Linked DNA regions of Homo sapiens: regions 2 and 3 are each linked to region 1. Evidence: fine-mapped expression QTL. A gene starts in region 1. Each other region holds a variant in brackets. All regions are shown on one strand. Distances are from middle to middle.

Region 1 (8,149 bases):
GACCCAGAATCCTCTGAGGGGTGGGCAGTGGAGGCTCTCCGAGGAGACAGGCCTTGATCACAGCAGCCCCTTTCTCTGTATACCATTCCCTTCAACCTCAGCAGGGCACTCAGCAGAATGCCAGAGAGGCAACCAGACTCCATGTCTCTGTACAGTCCCATGCTGTCTGTCCCTCACCATGTCAGGGCCAGAGCTCCTGTTTCCAGAGAGCCCTCCATGGAGAAAACAGCCAATTCAAAAGGCCAAGCAAAGACCGCTGGCCACTCCCATTCTCATATTCAAGCTCCCCCATTTCTCCTCTCGAGCAATCAACAGGGAGATGTTACCTGGGGCTGTGCTGCTGTGGTATTGAAGCTGAACTGCTCCCCAGTCCTGCAGGGCAGAGAAGAGCCCCCACCAGTCACCCCCGGAGCCTGGGGAAGAACCAGCCCCCGTGGTCCCCTCACTCTACCCTGCAGACCTGAGCACAAAATCGTCCATGCGGCTGACCCGGAGCTGGTATGTGGTGTTGACTGGTGACAGGGTGGACACATCCACGTAGAAGAACTGAATCTCCGACTCATTCTTGGTGGGGGGCTGACACAGGGTTCGTTCCACTTTTTGGTAGAGGTACTTGCGCTGAAACCTATGGCCCGAAGCAGGGAGATAGGATGTGAGCACTGTCCCAGCCGGCCTGCCCCTCCAGAGGAGCGAGGCCCCACCTCGCCCCGTCTGGTCTCCACCACCTCCCTGCGAGGTGCACAAGCTCCCGGCTGGTGGGACTCGGCCCTTGTGCTGTTGACCAGCCTCCCAGCCCAGGGAAAGGGGAGGAGAAATGGGGGGGCTCCTGGTTGAGGCTCCAGCCAAGGACTGGCCTAGGCTGCCCCGCTTCCCTGATGCCCAGATCCTACTCACATCCCTCGCAGGATTAGGGGCACCTGGAAGGACACCACAGCCTCCTTCTGGCGGACCACAAACAGCAACGGCGCCCCCTTCTGCTTGTTCAGGACGTTCACAGACACACGCACGCCCTCTGTCTGCAGAACGACATGGAAATGCCTCTCAAGCCTCTGCCACCAGGGACACGTGGCTCCAGAGACTATGAGCCCTGCCCTCCTTCATGCCAGCTACTTTGGTCTTTCTCCATCTTGGTCGGGCCAGGGAGTCATCTCTGCCTCTTCTTCTGCCAGAACAACCCCCAGACTCCAGGAAAGACCTGTGCTGAGTGCAGCTCCTGGCCGGCAGACATGTGCAGGGCAGCAGGACCCAAGCAACCGCAGGGTCTCACCCTCTGCCAGGAAACACGGTGGAGGCCTTGCGAGTCTCCAGGATACCCCATTCCTATCCATGTGCACAGGATGCACAGGCCTGCACACACAAACGTGTACACACGCCCCCACACACGAAGACACAGGAGAACAAGAAGTGCTCCTCAACCTTCCTGTGAGCCAGGAAGCCAGCAGGAAGCTCTAGTTAACAGCTAACCTGGGGCCAGAGCCCAGAGGAGTTGAGGAGGGGTAGGTATTGAAGGCCATGTTGTATCCTTAGCTCCCACCAAGGGACAGGGCTGTGGAGAAGTCACTTTACTTCTCTAAGCCTCAACTTCTCCCTCTATAAAATGACAGCCGGGTGCGGTGACTCACGCTTGTAGCACTTTGGGAGGCCAAGGCAGGAGGATCATCTGAGGTCAGGAGTTTGAGACCAGCCTGGCCAACATGGTGAAGCCCCATCTCTACTAAAAATACAAAAATTAGCTGGGTATGGTGGCAGGCGCCTGTAATCTCAACTACTTGGGAGGCTGAGGCAGGAGAATCGCTTGAACCGGGAAGGCGGAGGTTGCAGTGAGCTGAGATCACAAAACTGCACTTCAGCCTGGGCAACAGAGTGAGACTGGTCTCAAAAAAAAAAAAAAAAAAAAAAAGATAAAGTGATCTTCACCCTTGGAGCTATGAAGGAACATATATAAACAATGGGAGCTTAAAGGAAAAATAAAACCAAATCGATCTTGGAATGCTTGTTATTGGGCTGCTGAAACCCAAGCCCTAGGGCAGCATTTCCCAAAAGAGTAAAAACCACAGCTCTCCAGTGCCTTTAGATATGGGAAAAAAGGAAGAAAGGACTCTAAGCAGAAAGAGATCAAACTTCAGAGAACCAGGCACTGGGGGCAGATCCTGGCCTGCCACAGAAACCAAACCACTCCCCGTTCTGAAAAAAAATCAGATTCCCCATTCTCAACTCCATTGCTTCTCAGTAAACGGCAGTCATGGAGAGAGAGCAAGAGACCCGGGCACGAGACCACACAGCCAGGTTGCAAGAATTCTCCCAATCTCAGCTCTGCCTGGGGTCTAGACTTCCCACACTAGCTGTGTCTATTTCAACTCAGGGACTCACAGCTGGTGAAGAAACCAAAGAGAAGTCAGGGTGAAGTGGATTTTTCACAGTGGACAAATTCCCCTTCTCTTCCCACCCAACTTGCAGTTGGCCTTATAAAACCTCTGTCACCCTCAATTTACAAGGCCAGCTGGCTCTCCCAGGCAGGAAGAGGGCTGGGAAGCCCTGCATTCATCTCCCTGGGGAGTCTGAGATGTAACTTGCCTGCACAGAGCTTTTCAGTTCTGGGCCAGTCTCATTCCCCTGAGGTTTTCTGGGCAAGCCCAGTAATAAGCCTGTTTCCTCTCCCACCGAGACCCCACAGAGCTGTCAGATTCTGGGGTTTAGGGTAGAGAGCAAGCCATGTGTGCTCAGACCACAACTGATGGAAGAATGGGGGCGGAAGAGAAGATGGGAATGAGCCAACTTCAAAAACTGCCCAGCTGGAGCTTCAGAGAAACATTGGTGGCAAAGGAAGGAGGACTGGTCAAGAGGCTCCAGTGTGGTTCTGGGAACTGGGAACCTAGCAGGACAGCTCGTTCCTGGGGCCTCCCAAAAGGGTAGCGGGGCGGCAGAATCGCCTAGCCCTCGTCGGCTTCCCCACTCGCCTCTGGCCCCTAAGCCCCCAGCCCTCACCCTGTTGCGGGTCACAGTATGGTTGAAGGTGTAGATGTTGACCAGCTCGCTGTTGACCTCGTCCACGTAGGTGCGCTCAAACTCGGCGTCTTTCTGCGAGACGTTCTTGGGCCCCAGAACCCCCAGATGGCTCTCGACCGAGGCCACCAAGAGCACCAAGAAGGGCAAGCCCAGAGCGAACATGGCCCCGGCAGGGCGGCAGTGGCAGCGGTGGTGGCGGCGGCGGCGGCGACAGGAGACAGGACACCTCCGGGACGGGTTGCGGCTGCGGCCGCAGCTTCCAGCATCTCACCAGGACCAGAACTTTAACCCCGGCCTGAGATTAGGAAATGTCCCCTCCCAAGAGCCCCGAAGAGGCTCCCAGGGTCCCCGCAGGGGAGGGGGCGGCCGGGAGGGGGCGGGGAGGGAGGGGATGCTGGCTACGGGAAGGGGTCCCAGCTCGCGAGGGGCTGAGTACGACCTGAGACCCTGGAGCCCCGGGCCAGGGCCGTGAGAAGGAGGGCGGCTGGTTGCCGGGAGCCTGGAGACGCCGGGAAAGGGGAGGGAGGAAGAGCCGGCGGCGGGGGCTGGCCGCGGAGGAAGGCGAGTCGCAGAGTGAGGGGCGTGATAGGTGGTAGCTACCCGACGCCGTGCTGGGCTGCGAGTTTTCCGAGGTGCGGGCCCTTTAAGGGCGGGCGGACGCGCCGTCCCGACGCACGAACACTGAAAAGTGAGCTGCGCCGCTGGGCGATAAACAGCAGGGCTGCTGGCCCGCCCGCTGACGTCAGGGGAAACTGACACAGATTTAAAGGACCAGGTCCCGCATTTGCCCTTAAAGGGGCTGCAGCTGTCTAGCTGAAGGGGAAAGCTTGCAATGCCTTCTCCAACTCCTACCCAACTCTCTCCCGTGATTTTCACCATCTCTGAAACTCACGTTGGAATAGGCAGATGTTTCTGTTAACAATCTCCAAGTGTTGGGTTCTTGCTGAACAACTCTTACATTTGCTCAAACATAAGGATTCCCCCACCCCCACCACCACCTTTACAACTAACATCGTCCAACCCTGGGCCACTTTTTCTCCGGGGATCTTAAAAAATGAAAAACTCGAAGGATTAGGAAACAGGACGGTGGCCCTACCGGCGGAGGGGAAACGGAGGCAGCACTGCAGGAGGAATCCCCATGCCTTTCCCACCTCCCTCTAGAGGGGCCACACAACTGCAGGGACGGCCTTCCGAGCTTTCCAAGCTTGCCGGGCTGTTTCCCCTCTTCTCTCAGAGACAGTTACAAAACTCATTGAAAGATACTGACCTTCAGTGTAAATTGGTGAAAACTTTTCTACAAAATATTTTGGCACTGTTTCAAGAAACTTAGAGAGCTTTATACCCTTTGATCCAGTAATTCCACTTCTGGACTCTATCCTAAGGAAATAGGAAGCACAGATAAAAATACCTGGGCAGCTACGCTTATCACTGTGATATTTATAATATAAAGCAAAAAGGAAATGACTTGGATATCCATAATGAGGGATTGGTTAAATGCACTATCATGAAGGCATCAAAAATGATGCTTAAGACTTCACAGGACACGTAAGCAGAGAATTCAGGATATGACACTAAATAAACAGTATATAGAGCCAGGTGCCGTGGCTCACACGTGTAATCCCAACACTTTGGGAGGCCAAGACAGGTAGATCACTTGAGGTCAGGAGTTCGAGACCAGCCATGGCCAACATGGTGAACCCCATCTCTACTATAAAAATACAAAATTAGTGGGGCGTGGTGACGCGTGCCTGTAATCCCAGCTACTGGGGAGGCTGAAGCAGGAGAATCGCTTAACTCTACCAGGCGGAGGTTGCAGTGAGCTGAGATCATGCTCCTGCACTCCAGCCTGGGCTGCAACAGAGCAAGACTCTGTCTCAAAAATAAATAAGTAAATAAAACCGTATATATTCCAAATGCATATAGACATGCATAGAAAAATAGAAAAAAATTGTACTAAACATTTAGCAATGTCTCCAGAAAGCAGGGCAAATTTTAAAAATAAAATTTAGCAGTAGTTATCTTTGAATTACAATTTTAAAAATAACACATATTGTATATCATTTTCCTTTAATTCTAAAAATATAGAGTAGTACCAAAAAATAAAAAATAATGGATTGTGAGTGGTTCTTAAATTTTATTTTTTATATTTAAAAAGATTTACAAATGTTCTACAATGTATATATATTTATATATTGCTTTTTTATCTGCCGGGGGGTGGAGACAGGGTCTCGCTCTGTTGCCCAGGTTGGAGTGCAGTGGCACAATCTCAGCTCATTGCAACCTCTGCCTCCTGGGTTCAAGCAATTCTCCTGCCTCAGTCTCCCGAGTAGCTGGGATTACAGGCCATGTGCCACCACGCCCAGCTAATTTTTGTATTTTTGGTAGAGACGGGGTTTCACCATATTGGTCAGGCTGGTCTCGAACTCCTGACCTCAGGTGATCCACCCACCTCAGTCTCCCAAAGTGCTGGGATTATAGGCATGAGCCACCATGCCTGGCCACATATATTGCATTTATAAGACAAATTAGACTTTTTTTTTTTTTTTTTTTTGAGATGGAGTCTCACTGTCACCCATGCTGGAGTACAGTGGTGTGATCTCAGCTCACTGCAATCTCCGCCTCCTGAGTTCAGGCGATGCTCCTGCCTCAGCCTCCCAAGTAGCTGGGACTACAGGCACCCGCCACCACACCCTGCTAATTTCTTGTATTTTTAGTAAAGCGGGGTTTCACCATATTGGTCAGGCTGATCTCGAACTCCTGACCTCGAGTGATCCACCCACCTAGGCTTCCCAAAGTGTTGGGATTACAGGCGTGAGCCACTGCGCCCGGCCAAATTAGACATGTTTAAAGGAAAAGAAATGTGGCCACCTCTGAAGCTGTCAGACATCCTAATAAAGCCACCCAGATCAGTGCCTTGTCAGAGTTCTCTCAGCTGGCAGGATTGCAGCAGTCTCAGCTCCCAGCCCTGCCCAACTATCTGGAGCCTTGTTCCAATGAAGACTATTTTACCTTATGATCAGTTAGTTATATTTACTCATTCCTGCAATAAATATTTAATAAGCATCCACGATGTGCCAGGTACTGTTGTAGTTATGCTGGGCAAATGGTGAGTGGAGGAATTAGTTTTGGCCCCTGTCCAAGCACAGCATACTTGAGGATGAAGACCAGAAGCAAGCTGCACCCCTTTTCCAAAGGGTTCACCAATTAGAAAGTCAGCTGGAAGATAACCTTATGGGTTTCCTTGGCCAACCCCTCATTATACAGATGAGGAAAGTGACGCTCAGAAAAACTTCAGCCCATTAGTACCTCACTAGACTCAAGTTTGCACCTTGGTCCAGTACTGTTTCCAGCACATCTAGGCGAATATGAATCAGAGAATCCTCAGGATGGCAAAAGAGGTTTCTTCATCATGAGCCCTCCATGCAGTCAGCTGCCAAGTTTGGAGAATCAGTGTAGGATTTCCTCAGTCCATCTGGACTTTTCTTTCATGGTAATCCTGCTCATCTTGCCAGTAAATAATCTGAAACATTAAGAAACACTCGTGATACATTGCCCAGGCTGGTCTTGAACTCCTGGCTTCAAGCGATCTGCCACAGCCTCTCGAGTAGCTGGATTACAGGCAAGCACCACTACTCTAAGTTGGCCTCATAACTTTGGGGCAAGATGTGACCCTACGCCTGTTTTAAACGCACATCCAGAGTCCTACTTCACACTTAATTCATCTTGGGAGGTGGAGCCCAGAAAACTGCAATTTAACGGGGCACTCCAGAAGCTTGCTATGCACAATGAAGTTTGAGAACCACTGCTCTGGAACCAAACAACTGTGGACTATCACTATTTCTGTTTGCTCCCTTTCCGCTGGCAATATCTGGAGAGAAATCCATCCAAGCAAACTCTGAAGGGATCCTTCCCTTTTGCAAGGTCTCAAGACTTAACTTTTGAATCGTCAGGACCCTGCGTCTACAGAGTGGGAGGGCAGCAACTGCACATTTTCTTGCTGTTCCCAGGTCTGCAGAACTTTCCTCAGTCCCTCTGCCCTACCCCGCACTTATGAATAGGTCCTTTCTGAGGTCTGTCCACTGGGAGAGAATGCCTTTTTGTTGGCTGCAGCAGTCAGCAAAAAAAGGCAGTGGTGTGTCTCAAAGCCAGACTTGTGAGCACACAGGGGAGATGTCGGGGCCTCAGGGATGTGATCCTGGCCTTGTGCACAGGTCCAGCTACCGCATTCCCTGGCATAATATACAAAGAGCTCAACCCTAACCGTGGCCCTCAAGCGGTCAGGGTGGGGCCATAAGGCTTATTTGACTTATATTTCCCTGTGGACCACCCTTCCTGAGCCTGAGTGTTGAATGGACCAAAGAAATGGGACCATTCAACACACAGCTGAGGAGCTTGCTGGACCCATGAGTCCAGCTCCATTTTAAGTCACAGGGGATTTATGAAGTTTGGGGTGAGAGGACAGGGAGGAAGCTTCAGGTGGCTCAGGGGTATTGTTAAAATGACCTGAAGATGGCCTGGTGCGGTGACTCACGCCTGTAATCCCAGCACTTTGGGAGGCCAAGGCGGTTGGATCATCTGAAGTCAGGAGTTTGAGACCAGCCTGGCCAACATGGTAAAAGCCCGTCTCTACTAAAAATACAGAAAATTAGGTCAGGTGCAGTGGCTCACGCCTGTAATCCCAGCACTTTGGGAGGCCAAGGTGGACGGATCACCTGAGATCAGGAATTCGAGCCCAGCCTGACAGACATGGAGAAACCCTGTCTCTACTAAAAATACAAAATTAGCCGGGCGTGGTGGCACATGCTTATGATCCCGGCTACTTCGGAGGCTGAGGCAGGAGAATCGCTTGAACCTGGGAGGCAGAGGTTGCGGTGAGCTGAGATCACGCCATTGCATGCCTGGGCAACGAGTGAAACACCACTAAAAAAAAAGAAAAAAAAATGGCCAGGGGCGGTGACTCACGCCTGTAATTCCAGTACTTTGGGAGGCTGAGGTGGGTGGATCACCTGAGGTCAGGAGTTTGAGACCAGCCTGGCCAACATGGTGAAACCCCGTCTCTGATAAAAACACAAAAATTAGCTGGGTGTGGTGGCAGGCGCCTGTAATCCCAGCTACTCGGGAGGCTGAGGCAGGAGAATCACTT
Region 2 (8,182 bases), 310 kb after region 1:
AGGATGCAGATGGGAAAGTCACAGTGATACAAGCATTGTGGTGGTTCTCATTTCACTCACATGTTTTGGCGAGTAACAACTATTTTAAAGCAGTGAATTGATACTACACAATTGTATCTTATGTACCAAAATGTAATTTCAGTAATTCACTATGCTTTCCTGGAGTTAAGACATTTAAACTCCGGAAATCACATTAATATGAAACAACAGGTCAAGTCCTAGACATTTCAGGTAAACAATCTTCTACTGTATTTTCGGGTCCTCAAACACCTACAGGCCTTCTCTTTTCTTCTGCCTGGAAACCTGTAACTCCTGTCCCTCTTTGCCTGACCAGCTCCTGTGCATCCTTCAGGTTCCTGCTAGGTGCTACCTCCTCCAGGATGCCTTCCTTAATTCCCAAACACCCCCATTAGAAGACTTGATCATGCTATTTTGTAATTGTTTACTTGTCTCTATCCTCTACTAGACTGTAAAATGAGGGCAAGGTCTATGTCTGTAAATTCACATTTTATCCTGTAACAGTAAGCATTTGGCTATTTGTTAGATTAATAAATGAATGAATGAAGATAAATAAGAGGAAGAAATTCTAATTAGTATTACCTAAGCAAGGTAAAAATGGAAAAATAGGTATATGAAAATCCTGTATAACCCAGGAGTCTAGAAAAGTTCTGTAAATAAGAAAGTTAACAGAAAGTCCTGCCCCAAGCCCAGTTACTAGAGTAAGAGGCATGACAGAATAAGCTGCCACCTTGAGCTTTTCCTTCCTGTCTCTCTTCAGGCAGTGCCAGCAGTTACCCCTGTGGACGAGGAGAGCTCAGACGGGGAGCCAGACCAGGAAGCTGTGCAGAGGTAATGTGACATCTGGCAGTGCTTGCAGAAGCCCCTGGGCAGGCTCCCCTGCAACCAGCGAAAGGTCACCTCTGCCCAAGGAGGTGGTAGAGTGCAGCTTCAACATTTGTGTGGTCTCTTTGCTCAAGCCAGATGGCATGTTCCACCCCACATGGAAGTAACAGAAGACTACCCAGAAAATGTCATTTCTGTAAGCACCATTGGAAGTCCCCTAAGTGACAGCAATAACCATAAGAACTTTTTCTTTCCTCCCTCCTTCTTCCTTGTCCCCTGCCTTCATATTGCAACTCTGATAGTATTCACAAGGCACAAAGCCTGCTCGTACCTGCCAAGAACTGTTTACTGAAAAGGAATTGGAGATGTGGGATGACAGTGATCCTAGCTAGTCTGGCCATGGACCTCTGGCATGGACTTTTCCTTTCCAGGAGAATGAATACCTCTTGTACTGTTTGCTGTGTGCTTCTTCCACCCCCTTGTACCAACAAAGAGATATTGAAAAAGAGAATATGGGATTCGGGCCAGGGACAGATGCAAATATCCATTGTTTACAGAACCTTGTTGAGAGATGCCTAACTCACAGAGAACGGCAGTGACCATCAGGCATGCTGTACTGTTCATTTGGCCTCAGTTCCGTTAGCCCTGGTCCTTAGCTCCATGCATGCCCCCTTGTGGGAGTTGATTTTCTTATTATCCGGGGAGGGGGTTTCACCAGAATCCAGCATGTATTTTCCCAGAAATACAGGTGTTCTTCAAGATTATATGTTTTTTCCTTTGAGGGAAGTTGAAATAAAATGGTTTTCATGGGCTTTTGGGGAACTTTGGGTGTCTTTATCCAATGGTTATTAAAACATTAATGGCTTACTCTTTGGCAAGTTCACATAACACTGATTACTCTACAGTCTGTTAACTGATTTTAGCTGAAAGGGGCAAGATAGTTAAGAATGAAATGAGACCATTTTTTAAGAACCTGCCAGTTGCTGGCTAGGACTCTCATCCTATCCCCAGTAGCTCTGTGTGAGAGCTGCTATTCAGAAAGCAGCTGGTCCTATGTGGAAAGAAAACCATGGCAAACAGGGGTGTTGGCAGGTGGGCCAGCTCCTTCTACAGCTTGGCCAATAGAAGGAAAATTCTGGTAACTTTTTTTTTTCCTTGATGCTGTTGTTTCTATAGTTTGCTGATAAGAGGGTATATAAGGTTACAAATGGGCCCTACTGGGTCATGAAGAAATGAGAAATCAGGAAATTTACTGCCTTTCTACCTTAAAAGAGACAGCAATATTTTATCTTCTTTGTCTTAGACTTTCCTTCCTCCAGGTCTACCTTCTTTCTTCTTTAGACCAACATTTCAAGGGTATAATGCCCATCAGTTTTGATGTAATAAAAAAGGTGTAGTGCCTCTTTTATTCATGCCTCCAGAAGAGCAGCAGCGGTGGAGGAAGTCATCCACCAGACAAAGAGGGACAATATCTTATTGATGGTATTAACTAAGTGCTGGGTCTGAAAGATCTTCCGAATAAAAGCCATCAGTTTGGGAACTCTTCGTCTTGTGAGACTCTTCTGTTTTTATTTTTTGCCTTGCTTTTTCCCTCCCTAACTAAACATTTCATGTGGTTTTATTTCTTCATCCTCCACAGAATGTTGGTTCCCCAAGGACAACATCAGTTTTTCTTCTCTGATGATTGAGTTATAGTCACCAAGCGAGAGGGAAAGGGTGGTTTTGGAATTCATTTATCCTCAAATGGAAGGATCAGTTTTCTGTGACCTGTAGTGAAGAAAGTCTCAAACCTGGGGCCTGTGAGATCGAGAGACATGCACAGAGTCCTTCTGAATATCTCCCCAGGTTCATCTCTAGGAATAGTCCTTAGGGCTCATTTCCTCTGACTTGTATTTTGGAAATTTGGAGGGAAAAGATGAATAAATTAACATGGAGAAAATAAATTCTTCTACCGAGTAGAATGAAGCAAGGAAAAGTGATCTCATCTTTGTGAGCTAGATCTACTTTCTCTCTTCTCTTCAATGGCTATTCTTAGGTTCAAAATTCAGCCACTTCATTGTCAAGCCAACTTCTGTTGGCCAGTTAGACGTGTCTCACTTCCATCCAGGCAGGGATCTGTTTGCCATCAAGCCTTCGTGAGCTCTGGCACTATTTCATTGAGTGCTTTGGATTAACTTCTAATGCTTCTTGTGGAGGAATATTCCTGTCTGTCTTTTTTACTATGAAATGTGCTCCTGCTTGTTGCAGGTACTTGGCAAATAGGTCCAAAAGACATACACTGGCCATGACCAACCCTACAGCTGAGATCCCACCGGACCTACAACGGCAGCTAGGACAGCAGCCTTTCCGTTCCCGGGTCTGGCCTCCTCACCTGGTACCTGATCAGCATCGGTGAGTAGCCAC[A/G]TGAGCTGTGCGAGCTCCTTGAGGCTCATCGGACAGGCACCCTTCTGATTAGTCTCACAGCGACGGTGACTAGCATCGTGGCTTTAAATAGAAGCCAGCTGTCATCCTGAACTCACATCTTCTCAGCTCCTTGCAGTAAGCAATGCACAGGGCAAAGGTTTTTTACTGCGCCCTGGAGCAATGCGAGATTCCTCTCTCCCATTACCTTGCAGACCTGTTTATTGTCTGCATTTGATTCCCATGATTCTAGATGTTGATTCATAGATAAAATTGAACTTGAGACCTGCAAGAAAGTGAAACTCTCAGAAGGCCACCTGGAAACAGGAAGATTTTTAGCCATATCGATAGACTTGACCTTTAATAATCCATCACCTTCAAAAGAATGAGCATTTCATATCGTGTTACCATTGAACCGCCAGCCTGGAAATGAAGACAAAGCCCCTTCTGAATAGTAGAGCAGAGATCCTCTTGAGCGATGTATTTAAGAGGTCATTCTTTCAATATTCTGATGGCAAAAATCTTTTGCTAGGTTCGGTTATGGTTATAATCCATTCTCTTGAAGAAATAAAAGCAAGTTTAACCTTCCTGACCAAGAAAACTTCATTGACTCCAAGTAAGCCTGGAAGCAGCTGCGGAATGACACTTTGCTAGTTGAAGAAGATGATTATCTTCTGTGACTATCTTGATGACTAAAAATCTCAGTCTTGGCCACTCCGAAGCTATCCCCAAGCTCATGGCCCACACGTTCAAAGCCACCACCAGTTACTAGAGCGTATTTTATTTCTGTCTTTTGGGGAGGACACTGAAAAGCAGCCTTGGGAAGGTTGAAAAGCAATCAGATTCCAAGGAAACTAGGTTTATATATGTGGTGTTATGAAATCTTGCAGCCAGCTTGCACTGGCAAGCTTGACACATTTTTTTTACTGAGGCTGGTTACCCATTTGGCATCAACATAATCAGCAGAGGCAAGTGAACTCTGAGCAGAGTGGGACATAATTAGTGCCACGTTGGAACCCTAAAAGAAGGAAGATAAGCTTTCATAAATGACTATGAGTAACTTGGTAAAAATGGTCTGTCAGGAGTAGCAAGAATGACAATTCTCAAATAAAACTCTGATGGCACAGAAAGACAGGCTTTTTCTAATGAAAGTCTCTCAGGACTTACAGTGTTCGTACACACTAAAGAGCACTTTGAGGCCAGGCACGGTGGTTCACGCCTGCAATCCCAGCACTTTGGGAGGCCGAGGCGGGTGGATCACAAGGTCAGGAGTTCGAGACCAGCCTGGCCAATATGGTGAAACCCCATCTCTACTAAAAATACAAAAATTAGCCGGGTGTGGCGGTGGGCGTCTGTAGTCCCAGCTACTCGGGAAGCTAAGGCAGGAGAATTGCTTGAACCCGGGAGGCAGACGTTGCAGTGAGCCGAGATCATGCCACTGCACTCCAGCCTGGGCAACAGAGTGAGACTCCGTCTCAATAAATAAATAAATAAAGAGCACTTTGAGTGATTACTGGAGACCTGCCTTCTCCTCCCCTATACGTTTCCTGTGATTTCTCATAACTTCAAGCTCTACACTGGTATCTAATACACCCTTTATTCCTTCTTTTCTCCTTGTCTCCTTCTTCCCTTCCTCCACAGCCTGACACTTAATGTTTCAGCCCTTGTCTGAGTCTGTTGTTTAGCTGAAGTCCTTTAGGTATCCTTGTTGAATGCTAGGTGTTCCTCAGGAGGTCTTCTTATGAGGGGAACATGAAGATCGTCACATTTCCAGAGTCAGGCTTTATCACAGACCCTATATTCTGTTGACATTTGTTACTCAAGGAGGTCCACACTGGACCACAGCTCTGTCTGTGTGATATCCACCCTGCCTAGAGTCATTGTCAAGGCCTTGCCTGCTGGAAATCTATCTGCTGTCTGTTTTCATGTGAACCTTTTTGGTGTTTTGAGGGTTGCCTGTGGCCAAGCCTATTTGAATTGGAAGAAAATGATGTTTTATGAGTGGCAAATTGCATAAGATGGGGCATTTGTGCAAACCCAGCATGTCTTGATGGGATCACTATACAAATATGCAGCAAAAGAGATTAAAGCCAGTCTTCAGGGGAAATGAGAAACTTTCCAAGGCTATAAAACATGGAATACGGGTGGCCTGCATGGGTTCTTGAATTCCTTTCATTTTCTGGAGGAAATGATTAAAGAACAGTATATATAGCTATCCTTCTGGGGTAGAAGAGATGAAGTTCAACATGGAAACAGAAGAGTGGTCTAATCAACCTTTTCATTTCTGGAAATGTGTAATTTAAGGTTAAAAATGTTTTAAAAAGTGTAACTAAAAAATTTTTTTAAACTAACACAAGATAGATTTTATCCAGGTGGGAAACCAAGTCCCTCCTTGAAGAGTATAGTGTGGGAGTATCAGCCTAATGCGAGGCCATCCTGAATTTGAGTGTGATTGCAAATAAAAATAAAATCAAGCACAATTGATACTTATCAGTGCTTCTCAAATGAGCAACTGCATCAGAACCGTTCCTCTGAGGTTACTGTGCTGGACTGACCTGGGTATCAGTCTCTTCACAACCTGAGCTTCTGAAAAAGTCATGAAATACCTGGACCTGGGATTTTCTGTGATGGGAGAGAATTATTTTTGTGCAGAAAGACTGTATTGCTACTTGAAGAACATGGCTTTCTGAGGGGATCAGAAACATGTCCATTTCAGAAAACATTGAAAGCATAGGAATCAAATTTTAGGAGAAAATAGTACTTACTTGCTTCTACTTCAACCTGAAGTAGAAACAGAAATGACAAGTTATAAGGAAATGCTTCTCAACACAGCCTTCATGATCCCTGTTCCTGGATTGTGGCCCGCCAAATTCATTTGTTTTTTGTGTTGCTGAACCAAATACATGTTCGTGCTCATTTCATTAGCTCACTGCTGGGTCAAGCCTCAGGTAGAGTCTGAAACAAAAGCCATCATTAGCAAAGACAGGGTAAAAGGCTTTCACCTGCTGCCAGAACTCTCTGGATACCTCTGCACGGTCATTAGATTCCTCCTGGTCCCGCGCTGTCTGCATTGTATTTGAACTCGCTTGTTAACCTGCTTCCTGAGCTGTGGTTCTGCTTCAGTCCCAAATGAATCACTGGCAAGGTAGCACATCATTTCATCCAAAGTTCAGTGTAATGGCATCTCTGCCCTGGACATGAAACCCTGATCCTTTCCATCTGCTACTGGAATGCTGCTGCCTTGGCAGTCTTTTATCTGCTTACCTCAGCCCATAAACATCTCTTTCTGATCATCAGGTCACAAGAGTAGGTGTTAGCTTCTAACCCCGATGCTGTCTTAGGCATTCCTTATCAATAGCTTGTTCTTTCTTTCTGTAAGATTCTGGCTGTGTTCCAGTTGAGCAGTGGGGTCTTTGAAGGTAATCCATATGATTCCTCTTTCATTAGGAGGTTGGGTGAGTGCTGCTGCTCTGAGAAGTTGATTTTCACAGTAGGTGACCTTATTTGTTGACCAGGTACGTGCAGGATCTCAAGGCCCACATTCCTTAAGAATTTGTTGTCTCCATCCCAGGATCAGAAGTCTTCATTTTCCCCCACCCCAATCGCCACCTTCTATTTTCTGTCACAGAACCTATGAGTTCTAGGCCAGACCTTTGACCACAAAACTGACTGTTGTTTCCCTCTGGCCATACGGAGATCATTGCTCAGGGAAAACTTTGGCTCAAATGGTGAATTTAAGGTTTCTAAAGGCACTAGATAGACATATGATTATAAAAGCAAGAGCTTCTGTACAGTCTGGCCTGGAGGATATTGAGAAGCTTTTCTCTCTGGCCTAGTGTATTTATAAGAACTGGATGTACTTGATCTCGGGACCTCACCAGGCTTGGAAAGTAAGCCAACCGAAGGTAAGTAGAAATGGAAGATGTACACCTGGAGCCCTCTAAAGGGAAGCAGGCTAGGGAAACGACTGATGTCTGGAAATGGCATGAAAGTGGCATAATATGCAGGGCTACCTGGGCAGCCAGCCGTCTTTATGTTCATCTGGAACAGCAGTCCCTGTGTGATTTGGTCAAAGCCCCTGAGTCCTAGCCTCTAACCTTCTCTTCCCATATATTCAGCTCTACCTACAAGGACTCCAACACTCTGCACCTCCCTACGGAGCGTTTCTCCCCTGTGCGCCGGTTCTCAGATGGGGCTGCGAGCATCCAGGCCTTCAAAGCTCACCTGGAAAAAATGGGCAACAACAGCAGCATCAAACAGCTGCAGCAGGTAATGGAAGAGGTGGCAGGCATCCCTGGAGGAGCATGGGTGACAGAGGCCAGGATTGCAGGAGGACTGGGGTGGTAAACGTACCCCTTTTATGTCAGCAACATTGCAGTTTTATAGGTTAAAAAAGTATAGCTTTCTGGGCCGGGCGCAGTGGATCCCGCCTATAATCCCAGCACTTTGGGAGGCCAACGTGGGAGGATTGCTTGAGCCCTGAAGTTCTAGACCAGCCTAGGCAACGTGGCAAACCCTTTCTCCCCCAAAAGATTAAAAATTAGCATAGTCCCAGCTACTCCTGAGGCTGAGATGGGAGGATCACTTGAACCTGGGAGGTAGAGGTTGTAGTAAGCTAAGATCACACCCCTGCACTCCATCCTGGCAACAGAACGAGACTCTGTCTTAAAAGAAAAAGAAAGTATAGCTTTCTAATGCACTTTCTTTACTTTGTGTTATGTACAGCCCTCCCCAGGATCAAACTTCCTTCCCCTGTGAAGGGACTAAATTTTTCTCCTGTCTCTAGTTCATTGGAAAGGAATTTCTGGGCTTGGGTTTCTGTGGGAACCACCAGAGAAGGTGCTACTTTTTTTTTTTTTTTTTGAGACCAAGTCTTGCTCTGTCACCCAGGCTGGAGTGCAGTGGCACAATCTCAGCTCACTGCATCGTCCGCCTCCTG
Region 3 (8,182 bases), 240 kb after region 1:
TTCTCTGACTGCTAGAACATGTTGACATGTTGTAGCATATTCTCTGACTTTATATATATATATAATATATAAATAATAATTATATATAAAATATATAAATAATTATATATTGTATATAAATAATAATTTGTATATAATATATTATATATAAATAATAATTTATATATAATATATTATATATAAATAATAATTTATATATTATATATATATTTTTTTGAGACGAAGTCTCACTCTGTGGCCATGCTGGAGTGCAGTGGCGCAATCTCGGCTCACTGCAAGCTCCACGTCCCAGGTTCAGACCATTCTGCCTCAGTCTCCCAAGTAGCTGGGACTACAGGCACTCGCCACTATGCCCGGCTAATTTTTTGTATTTTTAGTAGAGATGGGTTTTCACCATGTTAGCCAGGATGGTCTTGATCTCCTGACCTTGTGATCTGCCCGCCTCAGCCTCCCAAAGTGCTGGGATTACAGGCGTGAGCCAACGCTCCTGGCCTGGCTAGGGAAATATTAATAAAATGGCAGAGGTGGAGACAGATGTTAAAGAAGTGGAGGCATTGGGTGCTATTTTGAGAAGCATTGCTCTGAAGGAAAGAAGGGAGAAGACAGTAGTTTGTACAGGAAGCAAGGTTGTTGGGAGAGAGTTCTCCACGGATATCTCACATTTCTTCATGTTTCATGAGTAAGGCACTGACTGCCTTTGTTCTAGACTGTTTTCTCAAGGATGTTTATATAGTGAGCACCCTTGAAAGACAGAGATAGTATCTCCCTCCACAGCTCAAAGATCTGTTTATTGCCCAGTGTGAAAGATTCCCTAAGCTCCAAGCTCAGGGTTCCTCTCCTATAATGGACCCGACTGTGTGTGTAGGCGTCATCTGGTCCCCTTTGCAGTGCCCTGTGAAAATTAGGGCTTGGGGAACTGAAGCAAATATGTTGATGTTCATGCTGCTTGCTGTGCCGTAAGTGACAAAGTCTTTTGTCTCTGACAGAGGGGTTTCCTATCTTCTGCCATCACCCATGTAATTGTGGCAGGTTGAGTTATTAGCTTGCAGAAATGGTGAGATCTCAGACCCTCTTGATACTTGACAGGAAATAAGGAGGGGTTTGTTTTATTTTGATTCGTTTAAATATGAGACTTGATTACAGGTTGAGGTTGAAGATGCAGTAGTGGGGAAGATGAGTTTGAAAATAATTGATATGGAAAACAATCTCTAAAGCAAGATCAATGAGGAACTGAGGGATGAGCATAATTGCAAGAAATTAGCCTTGCACATGAAGAAGGATAGAAGATAAAGGATGCATGTGGGTGTAGGCAATTTTTTAGGTAGAAGAATGTGAAAAAGATGTTTCATGCTTTTCATATAATTTTCTATTGAGAGTAGCAGATTATGTTATCAGATGAATTAAGGGTGAGAGGGTAGAGACCTGGATCAGCATGGAGAAAGTGAAATTAGCTGCAGGGAGGAATGAGAGAGAGGGCAATTAAGAATAGCTAAATAAGTTGATTAAAGGCCTTAGAGATAGGAAACAGTTAACTTGTTATTCCATTATACAGAATTGAGTGATTTTTTTCCCCTACCACCAATGCTCAATTACCTGTGTGTAAATTGAATAAGACAGACAATTGGACTGATCCTGTTTAGAGTTTACAGGACATGTGCAAATGAAGAGGCAACAGGTGACAAGGGTTTTGAGGCCACTAGCAATAATGTAATTAAAGTGTGGGCTTTTGGGCTTAGGCTGAAGTGGGTTGGGAAGGCAAGTGAGACCAGGATGACTGATCTTAAATAAGAATTTTTAAAGCTGGCTGGGCATGGTGGATCATACCTCTAATCCCAGCACTTTGGGAGGCCCAGGCAGGCAGATCACTGGAGCCCAGGAGTTTGAAACCAGCCTGGGCAACATGGAGAAATTCTCTGTTATTTAAAAAAAAAAAAAAAAAAAAAAAAGAATTCATGAAGCTACAGGTCTAGATGAAGTTGAAAAGCAAGTGTGTTAGTGTGTTGGGCATATGAAGGTTGGAGAGATGAAAGTCTAAAACTACACTGCCCAACACGACAGCCACTGTCCACATGTTGCTGTTGTGCTCACGCCTGTAATCCCAGCACTTTGGGAGGCTGAGGCGGGCGGATCACGAGGTCAGGAGATTGAGAACATCCTGGCTAACATGGTGAAACCCTGTCTCTACTAAAAATACAAAAAATGAGCCAGGTGTGGTGGCGGACGCCTGTAGTCCCAGCTACTCAGGAGGCTGAGGCAGGAGAATGTTGTGAACCCGGGAGGCGGAGCTTGCAGTGAGTCGAGATCCAGCCACTGCACTCCAGCCTACGGGACAGAGCGAGACTCCGTCTCAAAAAAAAAAAAGAAAAAAGAAATGTAGCTAGTGCCCCTGAGGAACTGAGTTTTGAATTTAATTTACATTTAAATTTAAAAACTGAGGTATTATGAAAAGTTTTAGGCCAGCTGTGAGAGTTAGCCAACTACAGACTAAGAGAGCATAGTCTCCAAGATCACCCCTCACTCTGCTGTCACCTACAAGTTCAGGAAATTCCCAAAACCGGTTCAGTTTGATAAATAGCTAGAAGGATTCACAAAATTCACTGAAAGCTAATATACTCCCGGTTTGGTTTAATACAGGTAAAGGATACAGATTAAAATCAGCCAGGGAAGGAAGTGCAGAGTCCAGGAGAAGTACGAAATGCAGAACTTTTGTTGTCCTTTCCATGTGGATACAAGATATGTTACACTCCTGGTATTGATGTGTTACATTGTGTACAGAGCAGTACCCATCAGGGAAGCTCAGCCCAGCCTCTGTGTTCAGTGTTTTTATTTTACATAAGCCTGATTGATTGATTGATTGATTGCTCACATGATTGATCTGTGTGTCTCGGTCAACTGATGCTCGTGACCCAAAGCCCACACGTCAAGTCACGCTGTTGTGCAGCCAACAATGTATATCCAGCCTCTACCCTGAGACTATATGGGTGTGGCGAATCCCAGCCTAAATCATGTTATTAGACTCTCTGGCATGACCCAAGGCTCCCAGACAGAGACACTCCGAGCAGACATAACATTCCAAGAACCCAGAGACTGCTTCCCAGAAGCCAAGGGAAGGCCAGGCCTTCTCTTTGGGTAAGGCCAAGTTCTTCACTCTGCAGAGTCTAAAATATTTTTCTATTAAACGCAACTCTTATTTTGATAAAACTACATTACACCTTGGCTATAGACAACTTAGTATTTTAGTTGTGATACGCTTATAAAGTATAAAATACACAGTGGATTTTGAAGACTTACTATGAAAAAAGAAGGTACCCTATCTCATTGCTATTATTTTTATTGATTACATTCTGAAATGATCTTTTGATGTATTTGGTTAAAGTAAGTTACTGATTTTCAAAATGAGTGCTTTTTTTTTTTACTTTTAAATGTGATTACAAGAAAATCTGAAATTATATAAATGGCACACATTGTATTTTATTTGATAGTGCTAATTTAGAAGGTTAAGATAAGAGAGGGGGAAGTTTAGAATTTCAGAGTTAAAATAATGTCAAGCAAAGACAAGTTCAAGATGTGGCCATAGGAATAGTTGCTATACATTGGTAGAGTTCTAGGTCACCGGAGAGAAAGAAGGCTAAAGGAACCATGAAGCAAACTGTCAAATAAGTTATCCTCATTGATGTTCACATTCCCTAGGTGATGGCAGAATTTGAGTGGAGGGCGCAATAGACTACAAACTAGGTTTCGGTGAGTGTCTTTGATGAATGTGAAGGCAAGAGAGGCAGAAAGGGAGTATACCAGCTGCCCAAACATATGGCGTAGTATTGTTAGTGGAGACCTTGAAGAGGTTACATTAATTCCTAATCCCTGGTGGAATATTGTCCCTTTTTACCTCAAGAGGCCTGTAAAGGAATTGCTAGTCTTAGAGGAGTTGGTTGGAAAAGTGATTATCAATGGGAGGTGTTGGCCCCGATGTAAAAGCCCTGCTGCCCTTCTTTGCCCTCTTTGTCCCTCCTTAACTTTTGTGACCCATCTCAAATGTTATTCCCCCTGTGAACTCTGCTCTGATTTTGCCAAATAGCTAATTACCTTTTTTTCTTCACTTTGA[A/G]CATACCTCTCCTATAGCACTTTTTGAAGTAATTTTTTTTTTCATTTCTAAGTTTGTCTTTTACTGGTAATTTAGACTCTGGTCCATTTCTTTTTCCTTTGACTATTTTCCAAGGGGCTTGATTGAATCCATGAATGTGGTGCCCACAGATAGAGAGGGAAGACTATATATGCTGAATTCAATCACTTATCACCACCTCCATAACTACCAATCTGGTCTAAGCCACCATCATGTCTTGCTAAGATCACTGCAGTAGCCTTTAAATAGTCTCTCTGAATCTGCCCTGACTTCCCCCCCGATTATAGCTAGAAGGATTCTTTTAAAATTCAAGTGGGACCTTACCACTGAGCTACTTCTGTTGGCTTTCCCATCTATTTGGAATAAATTTATAATTCCTACTATAGCCTATAAGATTATATAATTTGGTCTCCTGCTGTCTCTCACCACAGCTCCTAGCACTCTCCTCCTCACATCGGCATCTTTCTTTTTCATTAAACCCTTCGCTGTGCTCCCGCTTTAAGACCATATATTCCATTTCTTCTTCCTGAATTACTCTTTTCCTACATATCCACATGGCTGTCTCTCCTGTTTCTTGCCAGTCTCTTATCAAATGTTATCTCATTAGAGAGGTGTTTGCTCACCATGCTGTCTAAAATCTCATTCTTCCTACTGGCCCATTGCTCTGTAGTCTCTGTCTTGCTTTACTTTTCTTTTTGGTTTTTATCATGAACTGACATATATTTATTTGTTTTTTTACTGTCTTGAGTCAATAAAATTTACGTGCCATTAAAGACTTTGTCATTTTTGTTTCCTACCAAATCTTCAATACTCAAAATAGTGCCTACAGGGAATGCATGTTCCATAAATATTTATTGATAAGTTGAATAAAATACTAAGTGAATGAAAGAACATCACTGGATTGCTGATTATGGCGTTTAAGTTTTATTCATCTGTGTCTTCCTTGTTTAATGTAGTGTCTAACATATAGTAGGCACTCAGTAAATGTATTTCATTGTGTCATAATGAAATATAACTAAGTCAAGCATGGAATTTGCATGTTATTTAATAACATCTTAGTTAAATGAGTTTTTGACATGGGGAAAGCACCTTTTTTGGGTAACTGTATAGAGAAAGACATATTGAAGATTATGAATTCTAAGCAGTGTAATAAATAGACTTCAGTAATTGGTTATTTCATGAATATTTACTACTCATTCAATTGACTTATCCAGTTTATTTTTGCATACTATTCAGCCTTATATTATGAAGGAGCAGTGATGACAGTGTGGGTTTATTTAATGTTACAAACAGAATTGAGAAACTGGTTAGTTTTGTAAACCACTAAATTTATAATTTAAAACTTCCACACTCTGATATCTTTAGATATATATCCCCAAACTTCCTATTTGAGACCATGAAGTCATAAATCCAGCACTTTATCAAGCAAAATTTCCTGAATACCAGGCAGAACTCATGGGCATTTAAAACAAATTACTAATTTAAGAGGAGTCTGTTGAAATGTGTATGATTTATTATGAACATTCTCAGTGTCTTAAAAATAATATTTCTTAATGGTGCCAACATGTATGGAACCCTGAACTTCTCACAAAGCCATTCATTTATGCCATAGGTCACTCAAAAACTATTAGGACAGAGGATCAGAAAGACTAACTTGCATAACCATTGTGTACAAGATACTGTGTTAAGTGTTTCACATAGGTTATTTTATCTTGTGACTGCCTGGAAGTTCAAGAATACAACACATTTGTTTGAACACTACTATGTACTGGTTTGTTGTGGCTTTTTTTTTTTTTTTACATGTTTTTATTTAATCCGCAGCATCCTTTATGTCTTCACAACTAAACTACCATTTTCCCACTAGTTTATTTACTCCTTTGATTATTAAAAAAGGTATTTTCGGCCAGGCGCGGTGGCTCACGCCTGTAATCCCAGCACTTTGGGAGGCTGAGGCGGGCGGATCACGAGGTCAGGAGATTGAGACCATCCTGGCTAACATGGTGAAAGCCCGTCTCTACCGAAAATACAAAAAATTAGCCGAGCATGGTGGTGGGCACCTGTGGTCCCAACTACTTGGGAGGCTGAGGCAGGAAAATGGCCTGAACCCAGGAGGCGGAGCTTGCAGTGAGCCGAGATTGCGCCACTGCACTCCAGCCTGGGGGACAGAGCGAGGCTCCGTCTCAAAAAAATCAAAACAAAACAAACAAACAAACAAACAAAAACTTAGCTATTTTCTAAGGGTCTCCTAACAAGCAAGTAACCATGCTACTGAACTTTAGTCACTCTGAATCAAAATAATTGACTTGTATTTATTTCCCTAATTAATTTCCCATTTATTATTATTCATTTTTTGTTCTGTTTTCTTAATATCAGATATGACTAACATTTATTTTATTTATTTATCCTTTTTTTTTTTTAATGCCCCCACCAGGAGTGTGCAAGTGGAGAGATGCATGGATGAAGGAGGGGAGCTGGCGGGGGTGGGTCTGTGACCAGCATTTATATTGTAACTGGCCAAGATGTATGAGGAAGCCACCTGTGCTTTGACCTCACTTTACACTAAAACATTCATTTATAGTCTGATCATCCAGTCATTTCTACCATGACATAAAAATAAGAGCCCCAGAGAACAAATCAAATTATTTTTGCTGTATTGAGTATATATAAATCCCAAAGGGCCAGGCATGGTGGCTCACTTCTGTAATCCCAGCACTTTGGGAGGCTGAGATGGGCAGATCACTTGAGATCAGGAGTTCAAGACCAGCCTGGCCAACATGTTGAAACCCCGTCTTTACTAAAAAATACAAAAATTAGCTGGGCGTGGTGACACACGCCTATAGTCCCACCTACTCGGGAGGCTGAGGTACAAGAATCACTTGAATATGGGAGGCAGAGGTTGCAGTGAGCCAAGATCGCACCACTGCACTCCAGCCTGGGTGACAGAGTGAGACTCTGTCTCAAAAAAAAAAAAAAAACAAAAAAACCTTAAAGGAATATTTTTGCCTGGCTCCTACATTAACATTTACTTTCTCTGAAAATCATAACCCTGTGTTTGTTATTATCCAGTGTCTACAAACAGCCCAGCTTCTATAGTTAGGTAAAGTAAATTCAATATCAGTTGTTCTTTCATAATCAAAACAGAAGTCTACAATGCCATTCTTACATACAACAGCATTGACAGTAATTCCTTACTATCATGTAATAGCCAGGGCATGTTTAGCTTTCTGCAGATGTTTCAAAACATCTTCTTATAGTTTGTACAAATTACGATGCAAGAAATCCATACATCCATTGAGTTGAAAAATGTCTAAATTTTTTATAATCTAAATTTTTAAATAATCTGTGACAACCTCATCTCTTCCCTACAAACATTTACTTTTTTTCTATGCTATCTATTTATGTAAGAAACTGGATTGTCTTAAAAAATGTCCTACATTTGGAATTTGGCTGATCATATATTTATTGTGTCATTCAACATGTTCCTGTAGTTCAGTGTTTCTTGGAAAGTGGAAGTTATATTTAGGAATTTGCTTAGTTCAGTTTTTGGAGGGGAAGCAGGAGTGCTCCATAGTTTTTTATTGCATCACTTCAAGAGTTGTATAATATCTGATTTTCCCACTTTTAGTGATACTTAGAATAATCTTCAGGTATAGTTATTGTTCACCAAATTGATCCTTTATAAAGTTTCCCATCAGTCTTTTACGTAATGTTTTATCTACTCCTGTCATTTAGTTGCCTAGCTATTTCATTAGAAGTTGCAAGGCCGGGCTTGGTGGCTCACACCTGTAATCCCAGCACTTTGGGAGGCCGAGGCAGGTGGATCACGAGGTCAGGATTTTCAGACCAGCCTGACCAACATGGTGAAACCTTGTCTTTATTGAAAATACAAAAATTAACCAGCCATGGTGATGCACACCTGTAGTCCCAGCTACTTGGGAGGCTGAGGCAGGAGAATTGCTTGAACCCAGGAGGCGGAGGTTGCAGTGAGCTGAGTCCGCGCCATTGCACTACAGCCTGGGTGACAGAGTGAGACTTGTCTTAAAAACAAAACAAAACAAAAAA

What was found. PIP is the estimated chance that this variant, and not a neighbour inherited with it, causes the effect.
Region 2: its variant is fine-mapped to the expression of SIDT2 in whole blood (INTERVAL, PIP above 0.99).
Region 3: its variant is fine-mapped to the expression of SIDT2 in whole blood (INTERVAL, PIP above 0.99).

Annotation. Positions count from the first base shown.
Region 1 is chr11:117,174,283-117,182,431 of GRCh38, reverse strand. It overlaps SIDT2 (SID1 transmembrane family member 2), which reads right to left and starts at 3,689. Exons shown (of 26, transcript NM_001040455.2): 1 at 2,986-3,689; 2 at 895-1,016; 3 at 461-625; 4 at 327-372. The coding sequence starts at 3,168. It also overlaps a transcript of PAFAH1B2 not described here. RefSeq lists silencers at 714-773, 3,381-3,590 and enhancers at 212-1,007, 1,244-1,303, 2,331-2,400.
Region 2 is chr11:116,862,998-116,871,179 of GRCh38, reverse strand. SIK3 (SIK family kinase 3) reads left to right here. Exons shown (of 25, transcript NM_001366686.3): 14 at 779-849; 15 at 3,091-3,234; 16 at 7,362-7,512. Among named protein-coding and RNA genes, the nearest start is that of APOA1, 29 kb to the right of the region's middle. The variant A/G (reference allele first, on the strand shown) is at 3,247.
Region 3 is chr11:116,939,145-116,947,326 of GRCh38, reverse strand. All of the region lies in intron 3 of SIK3 (SIK family kinase 3), which reads left to right. Among named protein-coding and RNA genes, the nearest start is that of APOA1, 110 kb to the right of the region's middle. The variant A/G (reference allele first, on the strand shown) is at 4,103.